Linked DNA regions of Homo sapiens. The protein of the gene in region 3 purifies or fractionates together with the protein of the main gene of each other region. This does not show direct contact. Each region holds a gene or a part of one and is shown on either strand. Other genes may lie near its edges. The genes, in order: SF3B1, SART1, EFTUD2, BCAS2, USP39, PRPF4 and CDC5L.

The links.
Region 1: the proteins of EFTUD2 (region 3) and SF3B1 purify together in Homo sapiens (affinity purification with mass spectrometry; 4 studies listed by BioGRID and IntAct, with this or other methods). This does not show direct contact.
Region 2: the proteins of EFTUD2 (region 3) and SART1 purify together in Homo sapiens (affinity purification with mass spectrometry; 4 studies listed by BioGRID and IntAct, with this or other methods). This does not show direct contact.
Region 4: the proteins of EFTUD2 (region 3) and BCAS2 purify together in Homo sapiens (affinity purification with mass spectrometry; 3 studies listed by BioGRID and IntAct, with this or other methods). This does not show direct contact.
Region 5: the proteins of EFTUD2 (region 3) and USP39 purify together in Homo sapiens (affinity purification with mass spectrometry; 4 studies listed by BioGRID and IntAct, with this or other methods). This does not show direct contact.
Region 6: the proteins of EFTUD2 (region 3) and PRPF4 purify together in Homo sapiens (affinity purification with mass spectrometry; 4 studies listed by BioGRID and IntAct, with this or other methods). This does not show direct contact.
Region 7: the proteins of EFTUD2 (region 3) and CDC5L purify together in Homo sapiens (affinity purification with mass spectrometry; 6 studies listed by BioGRID and IntAct, with this or other methods). This does not show direct contact.

The regions. Positions count from the first base shown.
Region 1 is NC_000002.12:197,407,529-197,411,028, forward strand, and holds part of SF3B1 (splicing factor 3B subunit 1), read right to left. Parts: intron 2,480-3,500; coding exon 2,242-2,479; intron 1,054-2,241; coding exon 841-1,053; intron 592-840; coding exon 470-591; intron 1-469. UniProt on the Homo sapiens protein: Component of the 17S U2 SnRNP complex of the spliceosome, a large ribonucleoprotein complex that removes introns from transcribed pre-mRNAs.
Region 2 is NC_000011.10:65,968,234-65,971,733, reverse strand, and holds part of SART1 (U4/U6.U5 tri-snRNP-associated protein 1), read right to left. Parts: intron 1-3,500. UniProt on the Homo sapiens protein: Plays a role in mRNA splicing as a component of the U4/U6-U5 tri-snRNP, one of the building blocks of the spliceosome. May also bind to DNA.
Region 3 is NC_000017.11:44,864,946-44,868,445, forward strand, and holds part of EFTUD2 (116 kDa U5 small nuclear ribonucleoprotein component), read right to left. Parts: intron 3,406-3,500; coding exon 3,342-3,405; intron 2,953-3,341; coding exon 2,862-2,952; intron 121-2,861; coding exon 1-120. UniProt on the Homo sapiens protein: Required for pre-mRNA splicing as component of the spliceosome, including pre-catalytic, catalytic and post-catalytic spliceosomal complexes. Component of the U5 snRNP and the U4/U6-U5 tri-snRNP complex, a building block of the spliceosome.
Region 4 is NC_000001.11:114,575,116-114,578,615, forward strand, and holds part of BCAS2 (pre-mRNA-splicing factor SPF27), read right to left. Parts: intron 1,644-3,500; coding exon 1,573-1,643; intron 637-1,572; coding exon 475-636; intron 1-474. UniProt on the Homo sapiens protein: Required for pre-mRNA splicing as component of the activated spliceosome. Component of the PRP19-CDC5L complex that forms an integral part of the spliceosome and is required for activating pre-mRNA splicing.
Region 5 is NC_000002.12:85,619,186-85,622,685, reverse strand, and holds part of USP39 (ubiquitin carboxyl-terminal hydrolase 39), read right to left. Parts: intron 3,467-3,500; coding exon 3,397-3,466; intron 1,202-3,396; coding exon 1,107-1,201; intron 1-1,106.
Region 6 is NC_000009.12:113,278,658-113,282,157, reverse strand, and holds part of PRPF4 (U4/U6 small nuclear ribonucleoprotein Prp4), read right to left. Parts: intron 3,214-3,500; coding exon 3,027-3,213; intron 1-3,026. UniProt on the Homo sapiens protein: Plays a role in pre-mRNA splicing as component of the U4/U6-U5 tri-snRNP complex that is involved in spliceosome assembly, and as component of the precatalytic spliceosome (spliceosome B complex).
Region 7 is NC_000006.12:44,390,706-44,394,205, reverse strand, and holds part of CDC5L (cell division cycle 5-like protein), read right to left. Parts: intron 1,540-3,500; coding exon 1,378-1,539; intron 761-1,377; coding exon 633-760; intron 1-632.

The DNA.
Region 1 (3,500 bases), on a different chromosome or scaffold from region 3:
TGGGAGGCGGAGGTTGCAATGAGCCGAAATCACGCCACTGCACTTCAGCCTGGGCAACAGAGTGAGACTCCATCTTTTAAAAAAAAAAAAAAAAAAAAATTCTTTGTGTCCACTGACAATCCATAAACTTAAGTATATAAAATCTTGGTGAAGCACCAAGTAAAATAACCACAATCTCAACGAGCTTATTCCTGGGACTGCTAGAAAACTGAAGCACCAGCAGTTCTCAAAGTATAACCGATAGACCCATACACAAGTCTTTGAGATGTCTTTCAAAAAGTAATAAAAGTTTCATGTTGTTCATTTCTTTTCATCTCTATATGGAACTGAAATATACCTGGAAATAGCTAAGAGAATGGAATGACAATAGTAAATTTGGGCAAAGCCAATGCAAGCTTAATCAATTTTTTTCACTATTTAAAATAAATGTATATCCTAAATACCACCTCATTCAAATTTGATGTACTACCTTATATCCTTCTGGGAACATAGCATCTAATTCCTCATCAGAAAGTGGGCGATTTCTCTCATCAATTTCTCTTTCCCACCGCCAAGCCTGAAGCTGTTCAGGAGTCATACTCATTATGTGACCTACCAAGAAAAGCAAATTTTTATATAATCTATAGTACAAGACTGTATTATTACATACATTGAGATAAAAGACAGTTAAGATCAATCCTATTATTTGCTTTTATATTATAAACGCAAACCAAGACTTAAATTTGTATATCTCCTTATTCTTACTAGAAGTTGACATTAATAGTACACAGAATACCACAAAGGAAAAAATTAAATAATTTATGGAGAAAAAAACAATTATGTCCAATGAGACAGTTCTACCTGGAGTAGGGGTAGCCATGTTCATGGCTGGTGTGCCAATTGGTGTCTTTCCAGGGGTCAGAACTGGAGTGCTTCCACCCATCTGACTAGCTGGTGTTTCATCCCACCGTGATTTTCTTTTACTGGCTCCAGGAGTCGGTGTTTCACCAATAGAATCTCCACCTCGATCTGTTCGAGGAGTCTCAGCCCATCCACTTCCATGCCCAGGAGTATCTTTAAAAAGAAAGAGTGAGTAAAACCACAATTTTAATCACTGTTAAAATAATATTCTTTATTCTCAAACAGTTATACTCAAAACTATCAAGTTCTAAAATAGAATATTCCTAAAATGGTGACCCATTTAAAGTTGTTTGAGACCAGCCTGATCAACATGATGAAACTCTGTCTCTACTAAAAATACAAAAAGTAGCCAGGTGTGGTGGTGGGCGCTTGTAATCCCAGCTACTCAGGAGGCTGAAGCAAAAGAATCACTTGAACTGGGGAGGCAGAGGTTGCAGTCAGCCGAGAGCGCACCACTGCACTCTAGCTTGGGTGACAGAGCAAGACTCCATCTCAACAACAACAACAAAAAAAGTAAATTTGATGTTATGTACATTTTTCCATAATAAAAAACAAAGGGTAAGTCAGGCACAGTGGTTCATGCCTGTAATTCCAACACTTTGGCAGATCACTTGAAACCAGGAGTTCAACACCAGGCTGGGCAATGAAGCAAGACATTGTCTCTACAAAAAATTTAAAAATTAGCCAGGGGCCGGAAGCGGTGGCTCATGCCTGTAATCCCAGCATTTCAGAAGGCCGAGGGGGGCAGATCATCTGAGGTCGGGAGTTCGAGACCCGCCTGACCAGCATAGAGAAACCCCGTCTCTACTAAAAATACAAAATTAGCCGGGCTTGGTGGCGCATGCCTGTAATCCCAGCTACTCAGGAAGGCTGAGGCAGGAGAATCGCCTGAATCCGGGAGGTGGAGGTTGCAGTGAGCTGAGATCGCGCCATTGCATTCCAGTCTGGACAACAAGAGCAAAACTCCATCTCAAAAAAAAAAAATTAGCCAGGCATGGTGGCATGCCCCTATAGTCTCAGCTACTAAGAAGGCTGAGGTGGGAAGATCACTTGAGCCTAGGATGTCAAGGCTACAGTGAGCAAGACCCTATCTCTAAAGAAACACACAAAATCAAAGGTTACAGCCTACTAACTTTACTTTTACCTAAGGTTCTTCCTTAAATCTTAAACCACTTCAAGAAGTGGAAAAAATTAGGCATATGAACTGTTCTATTCTTAATCTGTCCCCCAAAAGCAGCTGGTTATTTATACGTGTCCACCCAGGAATAAACAGAACACATTTCAGTCTGTAAACATATCACTCAACATTTCACCCACACACCCATACTCCACTAGAAGTACCTCTCTCTGTTTTGGGGGTTTCATCCCATCTGTTTTTACGAGCACTGGAAGTTGCGCCTCCATGGCCTGGTGTCGCATGGCCTGGTGTATCACCTCGTCCAGGAGTAGCAGCTCCCGCTGGTGTGTGGCTAGGTGTAGGATCCCATATTTTTGAGCCTGGGGTTGCTCCAGGAGTCTCGCTTCCCTTTGCACGACCTGGTGTCTCATCCCATCTTAAGGAAGGAGTATGCCCAGGGGTCTTAAAAAAGCAAAAAAATTTTATTTCACACACCCACACAGAAATAATTAGAAAATTTCCATAAAATAAAAAACTTTAAACGAAAAATGTTTTAGTTCTATGCACTATAATTAATGAAAAGTTAGAAGACACTACCTCTACTTATAGGAAAAGATACCTACTTTCTAGCAAATGTTTATGATTAAAAACAATGTAAAGTTTCAATCCGAAGCACTGACAAAAGTCCCAGCTTAAAAAAACAAAATATTATCGATATGAATCTTTGATATGCCATTAATAGCTCTGTGACTGGGGGAAATCACTGAGGTTTCTCTATCTAGATCAGTAATCGAAGGCTTTCAGCTCTAATTACATTAGTACTTCTCAAAGTGGGGCTTAGAGACACATATTTAGGGGAGAAGGAATTCGTGTGTTCTAAGAAAATAGTCCTGTTGATGTTTTGTTTAATTGTGTGTGTTTAATTAATATAAACATGCTTTAGATCACCTATGTAATTTTTTTTTTTTTTTTTTTTTTGAGACAGAGTCTCGCTCTGTCACCCAGGCTGGAGTGCCGGGGCATGATCTTGGCTCACAGCAACCTCTGCCTCCCGGGTTCAAGTGATTCTCCAGCCTCAGCCTCCTGAGTAGCTGGGGTTACAGGTGCCTGCCACCACGCCGGGCTAATTTTTGTATTTTTAGTAGAAACAGGGTTTCTCCACGTTGGTCAGGCTGGTCTCGAACTCCTGACCTCGTGATCCACCCACCTTGGCCTCCCAAAGTGCTGGGATTACAGGCGTGAGCCACCGCACCAGGCCCCACCTATGTAATTATAACCAGATACCGTCACATGATTTCAATCTTGAGATCAGTTTGTATGTACAGTTACATGTGTACCAAATAATATTACCCTAGCTGATGCTGGCAAGATTAATGAAAAAAGATGAGAGGTGGATTTTCATTTGTTTTTTGACACAGGGTCTCACTCTGTCGCCCAGGTTGAGTGCAGTGGCACAATCACGGCTCACTGCAGTCTCCACCTA
Region 2 (3,500 bases), on a different chromosome or scaffold from region 3:
CCCTTAACTGCCTTGTCCCTCCTCCCTAGAAAACCCAATCCTCAATCCCACCATCCACTGCTTCAGGGCATTAATCCCACCATCCCCCTCCTCAGCTCCTGAATCCCACCATCCCCCTCCTCAGCAGCTCCTGAATCCCACCATCCCCCTCTTCAGCAGCTCATGAATCCCACCATCCCCCTCCTCAGCTCATGAATCCCACCATCCCCCTCCTCAGCTCATGAATCCCACCATCCCCCTCCTCAGCTCATGAATCCCACCATCCCCCTCCTCAGCAGCTCATGAATCCCACCATCCCCCTCCTCAGCAGCTCATGAATCCCACCATCCCCCTCCTCAGCAGCTCATGAATCCCACCATCCCCCTCCTCAGCTCATGAATCCCACCATCCCCCTCCTCAGCAGCTCCTGAATCCCACCATCCCCCTCCTCAGCAGCTCATGAATCCCACCATCCCCCTCCTCAGCTCATGAATCCCACCATCCCCCTCCTCAGCTCATGAATCCCACCATCCCCCTCCTCAGCAGCTCATGAATCCCACCATCCCCCTCCTCAGCTTCTGAATCCCACCATCCCCCTCCTCAGCAGCTCATGAATCCCATCCCCCTCCTCAGCAGCTCATGAATCCCACCATCCCCCTCCTCAGCTCATGAATCCCACCATCCCCCTCCTCAGCTCCTGAATCCCACCACCCCCCTCCTCAGCACCTCATGAATCCCACCATCCCCCTCCTCAGCAGCTCATGAATCCCACCATCCCCCTCCTCAGCTCATGAATCCCACCATCCCCCTCCTCAGCTCATGAATCCCACCATCCCCCTCCTCAGCTCCTGAATCCCACCATCCCCCTCCTCAGCAGCTCATGAATCCCACCATCCCCCTCCTCAGCTCATGAATCCCACCATCCCCCTCCTCAGCTCATGAATCCCACCATCCCCCTCCCTCAGCAGCTCATGAATTCCACCATCCCCCTCCTCAGCTCATGAATCCCACCATCCACACTGCCACTGGCAGGCCTGCTCTTCTCCCAGGGTGTATCTGCTCTCCACTCTCCAGAACAGCATCTCCCATCTCTTTGCACCACCACCTCTGCCACCTCTTCACTGGAAAAACACCAGAACAATCGGCCATGGGCTGCCTTGACTTCCCCTAAACAAGGTCACCCACAGCTGCTGTGCCCTCCCCACCTTCCCTCCTGAAATAAATGATGACACGAGCTGGCTTCACTCAAGCCCACCCTCCACTTGCACTCTAGGCCCCAGCACCGCCTGCCGAGATCTTTTTCTTCTTCCGTCATAAATGTGTCTCCCACATACTCTAGAATCTCCGGTAGTCAGAAAAGGCTCCTTTGCGGGTGGGAAACTTGATTGGATGCTGCTTACAACAAAAAACTAAAAAGACATTTTGGGGGATAACTGGAAAATGTTGGCATGCGAGCTGCTGTTTTACAGCATTTATGGGCTTGTTAGGGCAGTGTGGCTATGCGGGAGAAGGCCCTGATTTCGCCAGATGCCTACTGAAGTCGTTAAGGATGCAGTGTCATGATATCTGCAACTCCCAGTGGTCAGGAAAAAAAGAAGAGAAAGAAAAGAACTGTAACAATGTTTATAATTACTGACTCTAGAGGACAAAGGTGTTCACTGTGATAGGCTTTCCACTTTTTTGCCTGCACAGTGTGTGGGGTGTGGCTCATATGTTTAAAAAACCTTCTAGGTGGCCGGGTGTGGTGGTTCATGCCTCTAATTCCAGCACTTTGGGAGGCTGAGGAGGGTGGATCACAAGGTGAGGAGTTTGAGACCAGCCTGACCAACACGGTGAAACCCTGTTTCTTCTAAAAAATACAAAAATCAGCTGGGCGTGGTGGCATGCACCTGTAGTTCCAGCTACTCAGGAGGCTGAGGCAGGAGAATTGCTTGAGCCCGGGACATGGAGGTTGCAGTGAGCCGAGATCGCGCCACTGCACTCCAGCCTGGTGACAGAGCGAGACTCCGTCTCAAACAACAACAAAAACTTTCTAGGCTACACCAGGCCTGGTGGCTCATGCCTGTAACCCCAGCACTTTGGGAGGTGGAGGCGAGAGGATCGTTTGAGCTCAGGAATTTGAGACCAGCCCGGGCAACACACTGAGACCCACAGGCGCACGCCTGTAGTCTCAGCTACTTGAGAGCCTGAGGCAGGAGGATCCCTTGAGCCCAGGAGTTCAAGGCTGCAGTGAACTATGATTGCACTACTGCACTCCAGCCTGGGCAACCGAGCGAGACCTTGTTTCTTAAAACAACAACAAAAACAACCTCCTAGGTGAGTCTAATGTGCAGGCAGGCTGAGATCCACGGGGCTAGAAACCCTTATGTTCATTTCAGTCATAAAACAGCCCTGTCAGCCTATTGCTCCATTTCTCTGTTCCTTTTTAGCCGGGCAAACTATGTCCCAACACCTGTTCTTAGAAATAAAGTATTACTGGAACCCAGCCACGCCCACTCACTTACAGACTGTCTTGGCTGTTTTCCCTATAACAGCACAGCATTCAAGGTGCCTAACAGAGACCATATGCCCTTAAACCTCAAATACGTCCTCTCCAGCCCTTCAACAGTAAGCCTGGCCTCCGTCCCGGGTTCAGCCCTCACTTTTTCAACTCCCCTGTCCTCCGGGTCCTGAATCCACTGCAACTGTCCCCACTTTGCCTCCCAGTAGTATCAGAAGCTTCCCTCCCTTGCTCCCTCTCCTGGACACGCTTTCTTGGCTTCTTCCTAGGTGAGAAGTGTGGGGTAGGGCTAAAAGTGTGGCCTCTGGAATGATGGAGATGACAGAACCTTCCTCATAGGGTGTTGCTGGGAGGATGGAATGAATCAACAAACACAGAACATGTGAGCAGTGCCCGGCCCACTGTGCCTCTGGGGCAGCGACGACCATGGGGTCAAGGCTCCCCCTGCGTTGGCCCCCTACCTCTCCATCTCAGCTCACGCCACCCCTCACTCTCTGCTCTGCTCCAGCCTCCCTGGCCCTCAGGCACTCTAAGGTCACTTCTCCTGAGACACCTGCTGGTTGGTCTACTGCCTAAATGCCAGCCTGTCCACCTGCTGCCACCCCTAACCCCCCGCAAGGCTGGCTCCTCTGTGTGACTCAAGTCTCAGATGAACTAGTACCTTGGAAAGGTCTTCCCTGCACTCTCCCATCTAAGATCCCAACCCCCGGCACGTTATCTTGGTTTACTGAGTGCCCAGCTCCCACCACCATCAGAAATTACCGTTCCTGCATTAACAGTCACTGCTGCTCCCCACGCTCTCCCCCACACACTCTAGAAAGCCAGCTCCATGAGCCCAGGGCCCCATGGCTATCCTGTTCACCAATGACCTTCTCAGCCCAAGAACAATGCACTACTCACAGCAGGCATTCAACAAACATGCACAGAAGAGAGAGGCAAGGAAAGGATCCCCTACTAAAGCAGGCATCTAAAAATTTTTGCAAAACATGACTTTAAACAGAATAGAGGGCTGGGCACGGTG
Region 3 (3,500 bases):
GAACTTTTTGCAGACCAGCCTGAGCAAGGGGCGGATGTTCAGCTTCAGCTCCTCCTTCGTCAGGTGGATGCCAAGCTCGTCTAGGGTCCGTGGGAGGCTGGTGTCCACGTCACCTACAACCTGTGAGGGTGTAAGACACCATGTCAGCTGTAGTGAGAGCCTGAGCATGGTGCTAGAGGGAGACAAGGGAAGTCCAAAGAAATATCTGAAGAACTCCTTCACAAGGCTCTCTTCTATGGAGACAAAGCTCTTGGCAAGGACAAAAGTTTGGTTTCAGCGGCATCTCTGCTACCTACCCTTCAAACCACAGGCAAAGCCAACTTGGTTACATCCCCATCCCAGCCAATAAACCAAGCACTCAGATTGATTACTCCCAGTGCTGCCCCCTGGTGTCTGAAAAGCAGCATCTCCTCCCACTCAGAAACTCCCTCACCTATTAAACAGAAGTCTATTTACAGACTTCTCAGATTTAGAGGATCATTGTGCACTGGAAGGAACCAAAAAAGGTCACCTTGCTGTGGATCCTGTCAGGGCAGGGCCAAGCTAAATCACCCTCAGTAGACTCAAGGTCTCTACTGAGGCAGGCTCTATAAATTTTTTTTATTAATCCATTCCAGTCTGACATAAGATACTAAGTATTTTTCAGCACTAATAAATTTTAATTGCTATTTTATCTTGTTGCTAGGTTTTGCTGTTTTGTCCACCGGAATGGCCACACACATTTTGTGTATGTGTGTGTCCACTGTGCTTATTAAATACCTGCATATTTTATTACTGCCTTGGGAGAAAGGTCTGTATGAAAATTCCTATAATTTTTACCCTTTTAGTCCCATCTTTTAGGGAGTACAAATTCATATAAACGTCATGCTATATTCCCTTTTTTAGAGACAGGGTCTCACTCTGTCACCCAGCCTGGAGTGCAGTGGTGTGATCACGGCTCACTGCAACCTCCACCTCCTGGGCTCAAGTGATCCTCCTGCCTCAGCCCCCCAAGTAGTTGGGACCACAGGCACACACCACTACAACAGCTAATTCTATTTTGTGCGGAGATAAAGGGTTTAGCCATGTTGTCCAAGCTGGTCTTGAACTCCTGATCTCAAGCGATCTGCCCACTGGGACCTCCCAAAGTGCTGGAATTACAGGCGTGAGCAACCACATCCGGCCACGTTATATTCTTTGCTTCTCAGCATTCCACATGCTTAATTAAATCCTTACCATCTCCTGACAAATGATTTCAATCTGACAAGCATCACATATTGTGCAAACAGTTAAGAAAGCAAAGTTCATACGAACATGCTTTGTTTTGTTTTTTTCTGAGACAGGGTCTCACTCCATCACTCAGGCTGGAATGCAGTGGTGTGTGATCATGGATCACTGCAGCTTTGACCACCAGGGTTCAAGCAATCCTCTGGCCTCAGCCTCCTGAGTAGCTGGGACCACAAGTGCACACCACCAGTCCCAGTTGATTTATTTTATTTTTTTTGAGACGGAGTCTTGCTCTGTCACCCAGGCTGGAGTGCAGTGGCACAATCTCAGCTCACTGCAGCCTCTGCCTCAAGAGTAGCTGGGATTACAAGCATGAGCCACCACGCCTGGCTAATTTTTGTATTTTTAGTAGAAATGGGGTCTTGCCATGTTGCCCAGGCTGGTCTTGAACTCCTGGACTCAAGTGATCCTCCCGCCTTGGCCTCCCAAAGCGTCTGGATTACAGGCCTGAGCCACTGTGCCCAGCTCAGACATACTTTAAGTGGTTGCAAAGCGGTTCATTTTATGGGATGTACCATCACTCATTTAATCAGATTAATGAGCATAACTGACAAACATTTAACTTATTTCCAGTTTTTTCCCTTTTCCTGATGTTACAAACAATGCTATAAGCTGAGGTGGTGGACTCCTGCCTGTAAGCCCAGCACTTTGGGAGGCCAAGGCAGGAGGATCACTTGAGGCTACAAGTTTGAGACCAGCTTGGGGATAATGGCAAGACCCTGTCTCTACACAAAATTTTTTAAAAGTTAGCCAGGCATGGTAGCTTGCACCTGCAGTCCCAGCTTCTCAGGAGGCTGAGGTGGGAGGATTGCTCAAACCTAGGAGTTTGAAGCTGCAGTGAGCTATGATCGTGCTATTGCACTCCCACCTGGGCGACAGAGTGGGACCCTATCTCTAAAAATGCTATAATAAACACTTTGACTTATATGAATAAGCAGGAGGACTTTCACAATTATATCTGTAAGTTAAATTTCCGTAACTGAAATGATTAGTTCTAAGTGTCACATTCTTCTCAATAGTCAAGATCTGTTCATAAACCTGCTCTAGGAGAAGTCTTTTCTTTCATACCTTTTCCCTTTCCTTTGATTTTTTTTTTTTTTTTTTTGGTGACAGAGTCTCGCTCTGTCGCCCAGGCTGGAGTGCAGTGGTGCAATCTCGGCTCACTGCAACCTCTGCCTCCTGAGTTCAAGCAATTCTCTTGCCTTAGCCTCCCGAGTAGCTGGGACTACAGGCGCCCGCCACCATGCCCAGCTAATTTTTTGTATTTTGGTGGAGACGGGGTTTCATCGTGTTGCCTAGGCTGGTCTCAAGCTCCTGAGCTCAGGCAATCTGCCCACCTCGGCCTCCCAAAGTGCTAGGATTACAGGCATGAGCCACCATGCCCGGGCCCCTTTCCTTTGATTTTAATAACACTTAGAGTAATGTAGTGTTCTGGATCCAGAAGATTACTTCTGGAACAATTAGTGACCAACAACCACCCTTATACTTGACATAAAACTGAGCAGGTTTAGGGACAGAGGGAAGTGTGAGTTCACCAGCTCTTCCACACTGTGCTTATAAGAGCAGATCTGCCCAGTGTGACCTGACACACTCACCTGGGCGAGGATCTTATAAAGAGGCTCCAAGATAAACTCCACGAAACTTCTCTGGGAGCTGCTAGTTGGGGCCTTTTTGGTGAACTTTCGCCTAAAAGGAAAAATAAGTTCTGAGTGACCCAGGGGAAAAGGCACTATCACTGATCCCAAGAGGCATTGTCTAAGTGCTGAATCTGAACAACAGCCCAGGGGAGGAATGTGTGTGTGACTGTAAAGTTTCCAGAGACAGATTCCTGGAAGGATACATGGTTATGACCCTCCTGGATGCCTGAGCTGGGCTGTAAAGACTTCAGGAGAAACAGCTTCTCACCAGATCAGAGCTTAGGAAGCCAACCCATTTAGGGGAGGAAAGACGGTAGTTTACATTAAAAAAAAAAAAAAAAGTAGGTATTTAATCTTTGAACTCAGAGAATTTCACTGTCCTCACTTACTGGGTAAATGATCACCCCTCTGGAAAGTCACGTCCCATACTCTACTTACGTCTTAGGGTTGAAGTAGATGTCACCCCAGAGTCTTTTAGCAAATTCTTGGTAATTAATGTCACCTATGGGAGAAGCCACACAATTATAATCTACCTAGCAAAGTGTCGTTCAAAATTCTGTTTCAGGTGCCACAGGTGGTTCATAGCTGAGAACTTCT
Region 4 (3,500 bases), on a different chromosome or scaffold from region 3:
CCCGCCTCGGCCTCCTGAAGTGCTGGGATTACAGGTGTAAACCACCGCGCCCGGCTTTTCTTTTTCTTTTCTTTTTTTTTTTTTTTTTTTGAGATAGAGTCTCATTCTGTCGCCTAGGCTGGAGTGCAGTGGCAAAATCTTGGCTCACTACAACCTCTGCCTCCCAGGCTGAAGCAATTGTCATGCCTCAGCCTCCAGAGTAGCTGGGATTACAGGCACACGTTACCATGCCCAGCTAATTTTTTGTATTTTTTTTTTTTGTAGAAATGGGGTTTCACCATGTTGGCCAGGCTGGTCTCGAACTCCTGACCTCAAGCAATCCACCCACCTCTGCCTCCCAAAGGGCTGGGATTACTGGCATGAGCCACTGCACCCAGCACCTCCCATACTTTTAAAATGTACTAAAACTTTGGGTGAGATGGAAAGAAAAGAGAAAAAACAAAAAAAACAGAAGATGAAGAAAAAGGTTCTTACTCATTGTATACTTTCCAGGCATTACATCCATGCTGTGACATTAGTTCCAGATTCTCAATTCTAACTGCTTGATGCTCTAACTGGGCCATAGAATTGTTTACACATTCTTGCCATGCAGTAATGTCATTTTTTTGACCAGAGGAGGGGGCTGGAAGCTCATATCTGAAATTAAACAACAAAATAAAATAAAACCATCTATACTGCCAAGCCTTTACATCTCTTCTCAGTAGAATGTCCCATGAGTCTCCATATAGTATAAAAACTACAGAAGACTAAGGATGTAAACCTTGCAATAATAAGAAACCGATATATGCTAACAATCAATTTACAAATATGATTTAGCACCATTATGTTCACTTCAATGTGAACTGGTTAAATAAGCAACATTACATTCACATAAAAGATTGTTACATTAGCTATTAAATGTTACTGAAGAATATTTAATAATATTAAGATGTCAGTAATATATTAAGGGGAAAAAGCAGTAGACAAAAAAGTTTGCTACCATTTTTGTAAAATACTCACACCCACCCATCCACTAACATACCCATGCGCCGGTAGAGAAAAAAATGAGAAGCGATATGACTCCTTCTATTCTCTCTTCATACTACCCAGTCAGTCCTTCAACACTGCCTCTCTCTCTCTCTCTCTCTCTCTCTATATATATATATATATAGTTTTTTTTTCAAGACTGGGTCTCCCTCTGTCCCCAACGCTGGAGTGCAGTGGCACAATCTCGGCTTGCTGCAACCTCCATCTCCTGGGGGGTGTCAAGCGATCCACCTACCTCAGCTTTCCAAGTAGCTGGGTCCACGGGTGCGTGCCACCACACCCAGGTACGTTTATTATTATTATTATTATTATTATTAATTATTTTTGGTAGAGATGGGGTTTTGCCATGTTGCCCAGGCTGGTCTCAAACTCCTGGATTCAAGCAATCCACCAGCCTCGGCCTCCCAAAGTGCTGGAATTACAGGTGTGAGCCACCACACCCGGCCAACACTGCCAATATTAGCCAGCAAATACATTCTTCACAAATCTCAGCTCATTACTGAGTTACTACAAACTAAATTTTAATTTCCATTTTAATATTCTTACCGTTTCATACTGAGCAATTCAATTGGTTGTCGAGCAGCCAGTCTTTCAAATTCATTTCTCATTATGTCAGTCTGATGTGTAAATCAGAAAAAAGATTTCTAAGATCATGTTGACAACTAAAAATTAACAATCACCAAAGAACAGATTTAAGCTACACTACCCATTATAATGAATTGTTTACCTTTCCCTAATTCTTCTCTGAGTTAAATGCTCTCTAGAATCTGAAGCACACACACACACACTCACTCACTCACTTCACATTCAGGAAAAGTGGCATGTATTAAGGAGCCCACAGAGAAAAGGATTAATCCTAAACCAGTGGTTCTTAATTCCAGAAGCATATCAGAATCAGTTCGACAGTGCTATGGTTTGAATGTTTGTCCCCTCTGAAATTCATACAGAAACTTAATCCCCAATGTAATAGTATTAAGAGGTGGGGTCTTTAAGAGGTGATTGGGTTATGAAGGCTCAATCCATTCATGGGTTAATAAGTTATCACCAGAGTGGGTATGTTATAAAAGCCAGTTTGTCTTTCTCTTGTGTGCCCCTACCTTGCCATGTAATGCCCTGTGCTGCTTCAGGACTGTACACCAAGTCCACACCAGCAAGAAGGCCCTCACCAGATGCAGCCTGTGAACCGTACACTTTCCAGCCTCCAGAAATCCAAGAAATAATTTATTTATTTATTTATTTTTTTTTTGTGAGACGAAGTCTCGCTCTTGTCCCCCAGGCTGGAGCGCAATGGCGCGATCTTGGCTCATCTCTGCCTCCCGGGTTCAAGCGATTCTCTTGCCTCAGCCTCCCGAGTAGCTGGGATGACAGGCATCTGCCACTATGCCTGGCTAATTTTTGTATTTTTAGTAGAGACAGGGTTTCACCATGTTGGCCAGGCTGGTCTCGAACTCCTGACCTGAGGTGATCGGCCTGCCTCAGCCTCCCAAAGTGTCTTTTCTTTATATTCACTATCTTCTCTAGCAATTTTACTGTTCGCAAGTAAATGTAGTATAGCTGTTCCTCTTTAGGGCCAACGTCCTAACCCATTTCCATTCTGCACATTTCCTACCCTGAGGATAAAGAACTGCTTAAAATATTTCTTTGTAGTAATACTTCGGTTATTCCATGTAATTTTAATTTTCTGAGGGTTTCAACTATCTTAACAATTAGACTAAATAAGTATCAAAGGCCTTACAGAAGCCTGCATGAATGTTTAAAAGTTTTTATTAGGCCGGGCGAGGTGGCTCATGCCTGTAATCCCAGCACTTCGGGAGGCCGAGGTGGGTGGATCACGAGGTCAAGAGATCAAGACCATCCTGGCCAACAAGTTGAAACCTCATCTCTACTAAAAATACAAAAATTAGCTGGGCGTGATGGCACGTGCCTGTAATCCCAGATACTCGGAGGCTGAGGCAGGAGAATTGCTTGAACCTGGGAGGTGGAGGTTGCAGTGAGCTGAGATCACACCACTGCACTCCAGCCTGGCAACAGAGTGAGACTTCATCTCAAAAACAAAAAAACAAAAAAACAAAAAAACAAAAAACAAAAAACAAAAAATTTCGTATTAAGCATTTCTTTCTGCAGAAAGTATTTTGCAGGGGCTACTGCTAAATTACACACAATCTTAAGAAAATGTAGTTACCTAGTTTCCTGCAAAAAAAAAAACCAGGGCATTCTAGCTAGAAAATTCTGCAGTGACAGACAAGGAGTAAACAGCCAATTAAACACGAGGCAGTATAAAAATGCAGTATAAGTAGTCTTGAGCCATGTAGCATAGGAGGAACCCTTAACTAACTCACATGCTCAGTAAGTGATAAATCTGGAATTTTAGCTCATCTCTCTCCAAAGACTAAGCCAGTGTTCATGGAGCGGCAAGGGCAATCCCTGCTCATGGAGTAGTCTCATCTTAGCTTTGAGAGGCCTTCCTCAACCAC
Region 5 (3,500 bases), on a different chromosome or scaffold from region 3:
TTTTCAGAAAAAAATGGAATAAAAAAAGTCCTTTGAGCTAAAGAATATTCCAAAAAAAAAAAAAAAATTGTAGCCTGGGTAACATAATAAGGCCTTGTCTCCACAAAAAAATAAAATAAAATAATTAGCCAGACAGCAGGGTGCAATGGCTCACATCTATAATCCCAGCACTTTGGGAGGTACAGGCAAGCACACTGCTTGAGCTCAGGAATTTCAAGACTAGCCTGGGCAACAGAGTACAATCCCATCTTTTAAAAAAATGTGGCCGTGCACGGTGGCTCATGCCTGTAATCCCAGCACTTTGGGAGGCTGAGGAGTATGGATCACTTAAAGTCAGGAGTTCAAGACCAGTGTGGCCAATATGGTGAAACCCCCTCTCTACTAAAAAATACTAAAATTAGCCGGGTGTGATGGTGCATGCCTGTAATCCCAGCTACTCAGGAGGCTGAGGCAGGAGAATCACTTGAACCTGGGAGTCAAGAGGCTGCAGTGAGCCAAGATCACGTCACTGCACTGCAGCCTGGGTGACAGAGTGAGACTCCATCTCTTAAAAAAAAAAAAAATTAGGCCGGGCGCGGTGGCTCACGCCTGTAATCCCAGCACTGTGGGAGGCCAAGACAGGTGGATCACCTGCGGCCAGGAGTTCAAGACCAACCTGGCCAACATGGTGAAACCCCGTTTCTACTAAAAATACAAAAATTAGCCAGGCATGGTGGCAGGCGCCTGTAATCTCAGCTACTCTGGAGGCTGAGGCAGGACAATTGCTTGAACCCAGGAGGCGGAGGTTGCAGTGAGCCAACCTGGGCAACACTGTCTCAAAATAATTTTAAAAAAGTAAAAATTAAAAAAATACATATATTAGAGATTCGAGAACCCAGAGTCTTTAAGATTACAGTCTTTCATATGACTAGCTCTTTCTCCCTTACAGACATATCCAGGTTCTGACCAGTCAGAGAACCTCTTATTGGTTTTCTAAGAATATTTCAATTTCCTGGGAACAAATAGAAATTATTAGATATGATTCCTGAGAACAGCTTACTTTCTTTAAAAAAAAAAAAAAAGTCCCTCTGGAGCAGATCTGCAGTTAGCTCTAACAACTTATTTACCTTGAAAGTACTTGCCACACACCAGACAGGCATAAGCATTGATGTGTGAGAGGGAGATAGAACACAGTTTCTCAAAGTCAAAGTCCAGCACACTCCTAAGGAAACAAAACAGAAAAAAATAAATAGGATGGACATGTAGGAAGGCACGCAAATGAAGCAGTGCTGGCTCTGTGACCCATGATACCACATAACATCCTTCAGAAAACAGTTCACAACCATATATACACCATGGGGGACACTGATTATTCCTCACCTCCACCCGCCATGCTCCAAAGCACTGTTGAGGTGTCTCCACCAGACACATAATACCCACGAGCCTCTTTCTCATTAGTGTTTGTAACCAGTTCAGGACTTTCCATTGCAGTCACTTTCTCTAGAGAGAAAGCTACAAGTTAGACTAAGGTAACAGTACCCCAGCAGCATTCTGGAGGTGGAGAGGACATAAAAAGGGTGAATAAATCCTTGCATAAAAGAAAAACATATCACTTAAGCCCAGGAGTTTGTGACTAATGAGCTCTGATCCACCACTGCACTCCAGACTGGGATACAGAGTGGGATCCTCTCTTAAAAACAAATAATAATAATAATTAATTACAAAATAAAAATGTATTTTTATCCATAAAAACAAATAGCCTGAAGAATTTCAGAATACCTATAAACAGACCTATTTATTCAAGTGCAAAGTGAGTACTGGCAGTAAGGAACAAAAACCTTATCTCCACTGAATCCACAAAGAGATTTATTCTCAAATAGTAACTCTTAATTAACCGATAATAATCCCAAAGAGCTATGCTGTCTAATTTATTAGAGGCCACTAGACAAAGTGGCTATTGACAATTAAATTTAAAATACAGCTGTCCCTCAGTAGCCACAGGACACTGGTTCTAGGACCCCTTCAAATACCAAAATCCACAATGTTCAAGCCCCTTACAGCTGGCCCTTTGTACCTTCAGGTTCCATATCCTGATACTGAGGCTGACTGTAATTCAATTAAATAAAATTTAAAATTCAGTTCTTCAACTGCAGGAGCCACTGAAGCCACAGGTGGCTCATGCCTACCATAATGAACAGCCCTTATAACTTTTTTGGTTTTTTTTTTTTGAGATAGGGTCTCACTTTGTCATCCAGGCTGGAGTACAGTGGCGCAATCTCAGCTCACTGCAGCCTCAACCTCCTAGGTTCAAGCAATCCTCCTGCTTCAGCCCCCCAAGAAGCTGGGACTACAGGAGTGCACCACCACACCTGGCTAATTTTTTTATTTTTTGTAGAGCTGAAGTTTTGCCATGCTGCCCAGGATGCTCAAACTCCTGAGCTCAAGCAATCTGCCTGCCTCAGCCTCCCAAAGTGCTGGGATTACAGGCATGAGCCAGAGCACCCGGCCATAACTTTTTTTTTAAGTTTTTTTAAAAGATGGGTCTCGTTGGCTGGGCGTGGTGGCTCATGCCTGTAATCCCAGCACTTTGGGAGGCCAAGGCAGGTGGATCTCCTGAGTTCAGGAGTTTGAGGTCAGCCTGGCCAACATGATGAAACCCCGTCTCTTCTAAAAAAAATACAAAAATTAGCTGGGCGTGGTGGCGGGCACCTGTAATCCCAGCTACTCAGGAAGCTGAGGCAGGATAATCACTTGAACCTGGAAGGCGAAGGTTGCAGTAAGCCAAGATCGCGCCATTGCACTCCAGCCTGGGGGACAAAAATGAAACTCCATCTCAAAAAAAAAAAGATGGGTCTCATTATGTTGACCAGGCTGGTCTCAAATTTCTGGCCTCAAGGGATCCTCCTGCCTTGGCCTGCCAAAGGGCTGAGTAAAGGCGTGGGCCACCACACCCAGCTCTTACAAGAGTAATTATATTATTGTAAAACATTCCCCTACAATATAGGTTGAAAAACATTCTACATGCCACCTGGGAATCAGAGAAAAGAATGCTATGATGAGGTAAACTACCTCAGCTTTCAAACAAATTTCTGTGTTTTTTTTCTGCTGAATCCCAGGCACCCAAAATAGTATCCAGCACATACTAGATACTCCATAAACATTTCAATGTGCTACTGTTATTTTAGGATACTATGCATCCTGTTATCCCAACATACAAATGCAAAATAAGCTCTTTAACAACATGTGTTCTGACACTTTAAATCAAAGAATAAGGAGTAACATGGCAAGAAGCACAACTCTCTAGACAGGTTCAAAAAAAGTAAAGTTTGTCAATGTGTTGTTCACTGTACAGTCCAAAAACTTTCTGCACAGATTCCATTGTTCTTGTGCTATACTCAGCATCTCTGTCCTACTGACCTGTTAATGGTGTCCAGGTACGGGCAGTGGCGGCTCCTCCGGTCCTCAGAATCCACTCGGCCATTCTTTGCTGAAAGGAAAATCATCACAGGCTTTGAAAATGG
Region 6 (3,500 bases), on a different chromosome or scaffold from region 3:
TGGCTAAACTCCCAGTGTGGTTTCTCCCACTCAGTCTTCTCTATTTGGAAATTTCCAAAATTCAACTATAAGCAATTACTCTATACAGTTTAGAGTCAATGAGCCCCTACACTGCTACCACTTGGTCTGTGAAGACTGCCAACTTTCACTCAGTGCCACAATGTACTGGATACTGACTCAGGTGCTAACTATACAGTGATGACTAGGAATCAGTTCTTGATTTCAAGTAGCTTAGTCCTGGGGAAACAACAGAGAGTACTGGCAAACTATAATCCATTATATTACCTATCACTATAGCAGTAAGCACAGAGGGCTAGAGGGGACTTTGTAACGGGCATCTAACTAAGCTTAGAGGATCAGGGAAGGCTTCATTAAAAAAAGGTAATATGTAAATTGAGTCCTCAGTTAATCAGGTCAAGGGGGTCAAGAATGAGAAAATGTCAGGCAGAGGGTTAAACAAATAAGGCCTGGAGGTAAGAAAAACATGTTGAGCTTGCAGTCACAAATAATTCAATATGGCTGGAGCGTAGAACATAGAAGAGGACTGGTGAAGAATAGGGCTGCAAATGCAAGGAGGAGCCAGGTCACAAAGAATTGCTAATGCCACGCTCAGGAGGATTTACAGATGAGAAAGATCCCTGAAACAGTACAAAGAATGGATTAAAAGGGAAGAATAATGGCAGGGAAATCAGACAGTACTGTTGTAGTGACGCTCTGAGTCACAACCGTGGACTGAAATTCAGATAGTAGCAGTAGTGACTCAAAGGATTCATTTAAGGAACATAATAATGAATAAGATAGACTTTGCTGGTGGAAAAAACAAACTAAACAATAATAAAAAAGTATACCCTTTGAAAAGGCTAATAAAATAACATACTATGACAGAGAACAGAGGGGTTAGGTGTGACGAAAGGCTTCTTTGAATAGGTGGCATCTATGCTGAAACGAAAGAATAAGAAGTTTGACAGGGATCCAGGTTAATAAAAAATGAAGAAGAAAGGCCGGGCGCGGTAGCTCACATCTGTAATCCCAGCACTTTGGGAGGCCCAGGCAGGCGGATCACTTGAGGAGGTGTTGAGAGGATCACTTGAGGAGGTGTTCAACACCTGGCCAACGTGTTGAAACCCCGTCTCTACTAAAAATACAGAAATTAGCCAGGCATGGTGGCACATGCCTGTAGTCCCAGCTACTTGGGAGGCTGAGGCAGGAGAATGGCTTGTACCTGGGAGGTGGAGGTTGCAGTGAGCTGAGATTGCACCACCGCACTCCACCCTGGGTGACAGAGCGAGACTCCGTTTCAAAGAAAAAAAAAGGAAGAAAAAAAGCCTCTAAAAGACAAGACAGAAGAATAAAAGTAGACCAATTATGTGGAAAGACATAAAAAGAACTAGCATATTCCATAAGGACCAATGTGGCTATTCTAGTAAATTGGGGAAGGGAGACATGAGTAAGGCTGAAGACCTTACAGACCATGGTAAGAGTTTTTTACTCCAAGTATGAGAAGACAATCTAGGATTTTAAGCAAGCAATTAACACAACATGTTTGGGGCTATCACAACAGTGCAGATTTGAAAGCAGTAAAGATAGAGCAAAGAAGATAGCTGGAGTTGTATCTCGCAAGTAGAACAGACCAGATTTTGCTAATGGATTATAAAGGAGGCTAGGCAGATTTTCAACTAAGAATTGTATGAGTATAGGAGAGAGGTGGGGAAATATTTCAATTCAGATGTCTCAAGTTTGAAGTACCTGTGGGATACCTAAGCTGCAGTGAGAGATTTGGGAATCATCAGAACACACAGTGAATGATGCCATGGGAGTAGAGCTGATCACCAAGGGCAAGTAGAGAAAAAGGCAGCCTGTAAAGGGCAGGCAGAGAAAAAGAGGTTTAGAAGGTAAGTGAGAAGAATTAGCTAGTGAGAGAAGAGGAAAATCAAGAGGATTTGTTATTAGGAGAGTGAAGGAAAGGGAGTAGTTCAAGGAGGGAGTATTTCAAGGAGGAGTGGCTGGCAGTATACTAGGGCTATTCTTAGTAAAGGTGGATTGGTGATCTTAACAAAGAGCAATTTTAATGTGGTAGGGGTTGGTCAGTTTGCAGCAGGTTGAAGAGTAAATAAGGGTAAGGACCTCAAGGGAGTAATAGAAAAAACCCTTCCAACAAGCTGGATGATGAAGGGTAGATGAGACAGTGGACAGAGAGACCAGAGGGGCTCCTCATAATTGTGTGTGACTAGACCACAACTAAGACTTCGCAACCTGCAAATAACAAGAGGGCATTATCTGAGGATGGTACCCCTCTTCAATAAAATCCAAGAAACATTTATCATTGTTCTATGTCATTGATATGGAATGCATTTGATGTCTCAATTTTCAAAGCCCAACAACAAATGTTTATCCAATTCAAAACTCGCACTGGGGAGGGGAGGCAAGGGAGCATGTTAGCACCCTCTTCCAAGTCTATAAAGAAAAACGGGCCAGGCACGAAGGCTCACGCTTGTAATCCCAGCACTTTGGGAGGCCAAGGTGGGTAAATCATTTGAGGTTAGGAGTTCAAGACCAGCCTGGCCAACATGGTGAAACCCTGTCTCTACTAAAAATACAAAAATATAAAAAATAACTAAAAATACAAAAAAGAAAAATGTGGTGGCAGGTGCCTGTAATCCCAGCCACTTGGGAGGCTGAGGCAGGAAAATCGCTTGAACCCGGGAGGCGGAGGCTGCAGTGAGCCGAGATCACGACGCTGCACTCAAGCCTGGGTGACAGAGCAAGACTCTGTCTCAAAACACAAAACAAAACAAAACAAAACAAAACAAAACAAAACAAAAACGAACAAACACAAAAAAGAAACATTAATAGTGCGGTAAAAATTGGCCTAAGACAGATTATGGGCTAACTCATATAAACACAGTAAGATATTGTTAACATGATTTGAGACATTCTATTAAAGTTCAACTAAATGATCAACCAAAATTTGGAGTAGAACCCTGTGATTATAATAAAGAAAAAAAGTAAATATTTAGAAAGGCAACCTTTCTCTTCTTTCAGCAGGACCCTCTCCAAAAAGTGTGATGGGTTCCCCCAAGGCTCTAAGGCAAGCTTTGACCTCTGAGTCATCTGTGGAAACATTGATCTGCCGGGCTCGCTTCCTTCTCTCAAACTCAGCCAATACTTCTGCCTGTCGCTCGCTGATATGCTCTTCAATTTCAAACACTTCTCCTATTAAAAAGAAAACAGGCAACATCAGCAGATCTTCTTCAAATAGAGAGAAATAATTTCTAGTAATTGCAGTCTGTGTATGCCCTGAGGGAAAAGTAACTGTCTATTACACATTTTATAGTTTACTGTTTTTCAGTTTATTAAATTATGCCAAACACATAAACCTAAATGACACAGCTTCAAAAGGCAAGAAAATGGTTCAAGCCACCTCTTGTTTCATTTATTAACTTTGTGCCTATATAAACACACACTTTGGCTGAGACCAGCAAGTAAGAGTACAGAACATC
Region 7 (3,500 bases), on a different chromosome or scaffold from region 3:
GTTGCCCAGACTGGCCTCCAACTCCTGGGCTAAAGAGATCGACCCACCTCAACTTCCTTAGCAGCTAGCACTACAGGCACATACCACCACACCCCGTAACACTTAATTAACTTAATTAACTGAATTGAAGAAACAGAAGATGAAGGGGCGCTGTTCAGAAAAAGCAACTACTCTATAACAGAAAACACTGGACATATTTGGAAAGATACTTAGAATAAGAACACTGCTGACAGAATTGGGGATCAGGTATGGTGGCTCACACCTATAATCTCAACACTTTTGGAGGCAGAAAAGGGAGGATAGCTTAAGCCCAGGAGTTTGAGACCAGCCTGGGTAACACAGGGAGACCCCATCTCTACAAAAAAATTTAAAAATTAGCCAGGTATGGCGGCATAAACCTGTAGTCCCAACTACTCAGGAGGCTGAGATGGGAGGATTGCTTAAGCCCAGGAGGTCAAAACCGCAGTGAACCATGATTGTGCCACTTCATTCCAGCCTGGGTAACAGAGCAAGACCTTGTCTCAAAAAAAAAAGGGATTCTAAAGTAGAGGAGTTCAGAAAGGAACTAAAAGAGTGAGGCCCAAGGAGTTTACAGTTACCAAAGAAATAAATTCCTCAAAGCATACACTTACCCTCATCCATATCAATTGGATCAGGCCGCGCTGGTTTTGTTTCTGGATTTGGATCTATTTCTCCAGGTTTAAGTTTTCGTGGATCATCTGTTGTTTCCTCTTCATTGTCTCTTTGGGCAGCTTTATCCCTAGAAAAAAGCCCATAGGAGTTAGTCACACTACAGTACCATTTAGAGTTAAAATTACCAGATTTCCAAGTTCTGACGATATTTTTCCCCCCAAAAAAACCAATGGATGGGCTTTAACAACATAAAGCCTTTTTACTATCACTTCATCTGAAAGAAATGATATTAAAATTTGCTGATTTCAGTGACTGGTTTCAATCACTCTAAAATAGAACCCAAACAGATCCTAATCACAAATGCGGTACAGCCATACAAATTTAAAAAAAAAAAAAAAAAAAAAAAAACTATTAGTAAAGAACCAAAATGTTCCAGTAGTTAATTCTTAGCAGTGTGATTATGGGTGACTTTTATTTGCTCTTTTACTATTTTTTCCCCAGATTTTCTATGATGAACATGCATGACTTGTATAATTCTTTTAAATTATTATTTTAGGAAGTATATGACAGAAGGCATAATTTTGATCAACCATCTGAGATATGGAAAATATTATCCAATGGCTTTAGCTTTGGGTTTACTCACATCCATAATTAAAAGTTTAAAGACAGAAAATACTCAAAGTTTATTCAGCCTCTTTCAGAACATATACATATATTCTATGCTCTTTCTGAAGACTCACTTACAGAAGAAATTCATAGTGTTCTAAGCACTGGGCCGCTGTTCTTCCAATGATTGGAGCAATGGTCCTCCACTGAGTTGGCATCAACTTGGCCAAGTGCAAGAGTTTTTCCTCTTCTTCTCTGGACCATTCTGTCTTCTTAATGCTTGGATCCAGCCATTCATACCTATTAAACATAGATCATTTTATATATTAATCAGTTACCTGGCATAAATATCCAATTTGCACAATGGATACACTGACTTGTGCTCTCATCCTTCAATTACAAAAACTGTTCTTTTTGACAACAGAATATTTGCTGTGTGGTTACACTTACCCCAGTCAATATTCCCCATCTCATCACATTCTATTTTATTTTAATTATGCAAGATTAGTAATGGTTAAAAAAGGTTACTTCACTGAATCATGATCATAAGCCTTCTTTCTCATCTATCATGTTTTTATTTATTTACGCTTTTCTAGAAATTTTGAAATATTTGGAAGACAATACAAAATCACGTTTCTTACAGTGTTTCCAGTTTTCATACTATTTTCTCATGCTTTGATTCTCACACCATGGCTTATTTCTTTAAGCATTTGACTTACACTCACTAAATTCACCGTAACCTTTCATTTGATATGTTTTAAAATTTAAGTAAAACTACTATGACATTCCCTCTGTCTTTCCTAATTCCCCACCCAGCCCACCTTTTCCATCCAGTCTACTTAGCTGGATGACAGGCAGGCAAACAGGACTTAAGTCCTACCAAATATGACAGCAGGAACTGGTACCACTAAGACAAACAGAAATCAGAACGACTTCTTCAGCCTAAAAATCATCTTCCTCTTAACAGCCAATTTCTACATTCAAAAAGCCTCACTCTGTCGCCCAGGCTGGAGTGCAGTGGCAGCATCTCAGCTCACTACAACCTCCACCTCCTGGGTTCAACCGATCCTCCCACCTCAGCCTCCCAAGTAGCCACCACGCCTGGCTAATTTTTGTACTTTTAGAAGAGACGGGGTTTTCACCATGTTGGCCAGGCTGGTCTCAAACTCCTGACCTCAGGTGATCCCAGCCTTGGCCTCCCGAAGTGCTAGGCTTACAGATGTGAGCCACCACGCCTGGCCAATTTCTACATTCTGATACTTTCCCCTAACCAGGTGCCTAGGAAATTAGGTCATTCTTATACAATCCAAAGTATTTTCCTAATGCCACATGACTTGGGGATGGTGCTAAATAACTCATGCCAAGAACACCCTAAATAGCTTCACGTGTCCACTACCCTATGATTTAAGAGGTGACACCAGCCGGGCGCGGTGGCTCACGCCTGTAATCCCAGCACTCTGGGAGGCCGAGGTGGATGGATCACGAGGTCAGGAGATCAAGACCATCCTGGCTAACACGGCGAAACTCCGTCTCTACTAAAAATACAAAAAATTAGCCGGGAATGGTGGCAGGAGCCTGTAGTCCCAGCTACTCAGGAGGCTATGGCAGAAGAATGGCGTGAACCCGGGAGGCAAAGCTTGCAGTGAGCTGAGATCACGCCACTGCACTCCAGCCTGGGCGACAGAGCAAGACTCCGTCCCAAAAAATAAAAATAAAAAAGAGGTGACACCACAGGTTCAGAGTTGGCTTATATCTTTTAATATATATAACATATTAAATATGTTTAATATATACAATATATAACATATTAAATATGTTTAATATATAATATATAACATATTAAATATGTTTAATATATAATATATAACATATTAAATGTTTAATATATAATATATAACATATTAAATATGTTTAATATATAATATATAACATATTAAATATGTTTAATATATAATATATAACATATTAAATATGTTTAATATATAATATATAACATATTAAATATGTTTAATATATAATATATAACATATTAAATATGTTTAATATATAATATATAACATTAAGTATGTTTAATATATAATATATAACATATTAACTATAAAATATATAATATTTCAACTGTATTATGAGGAAACTCAACTACTGTAGGCTTACTTAGAAAATTAGCCATTATTTATCATTTATTTCTTTGAGCAAGTAATTTCTAAAACAGCTAACTTATGCACTTTTAGAACACAATTAATTTACAAGCTGGGGCTCAT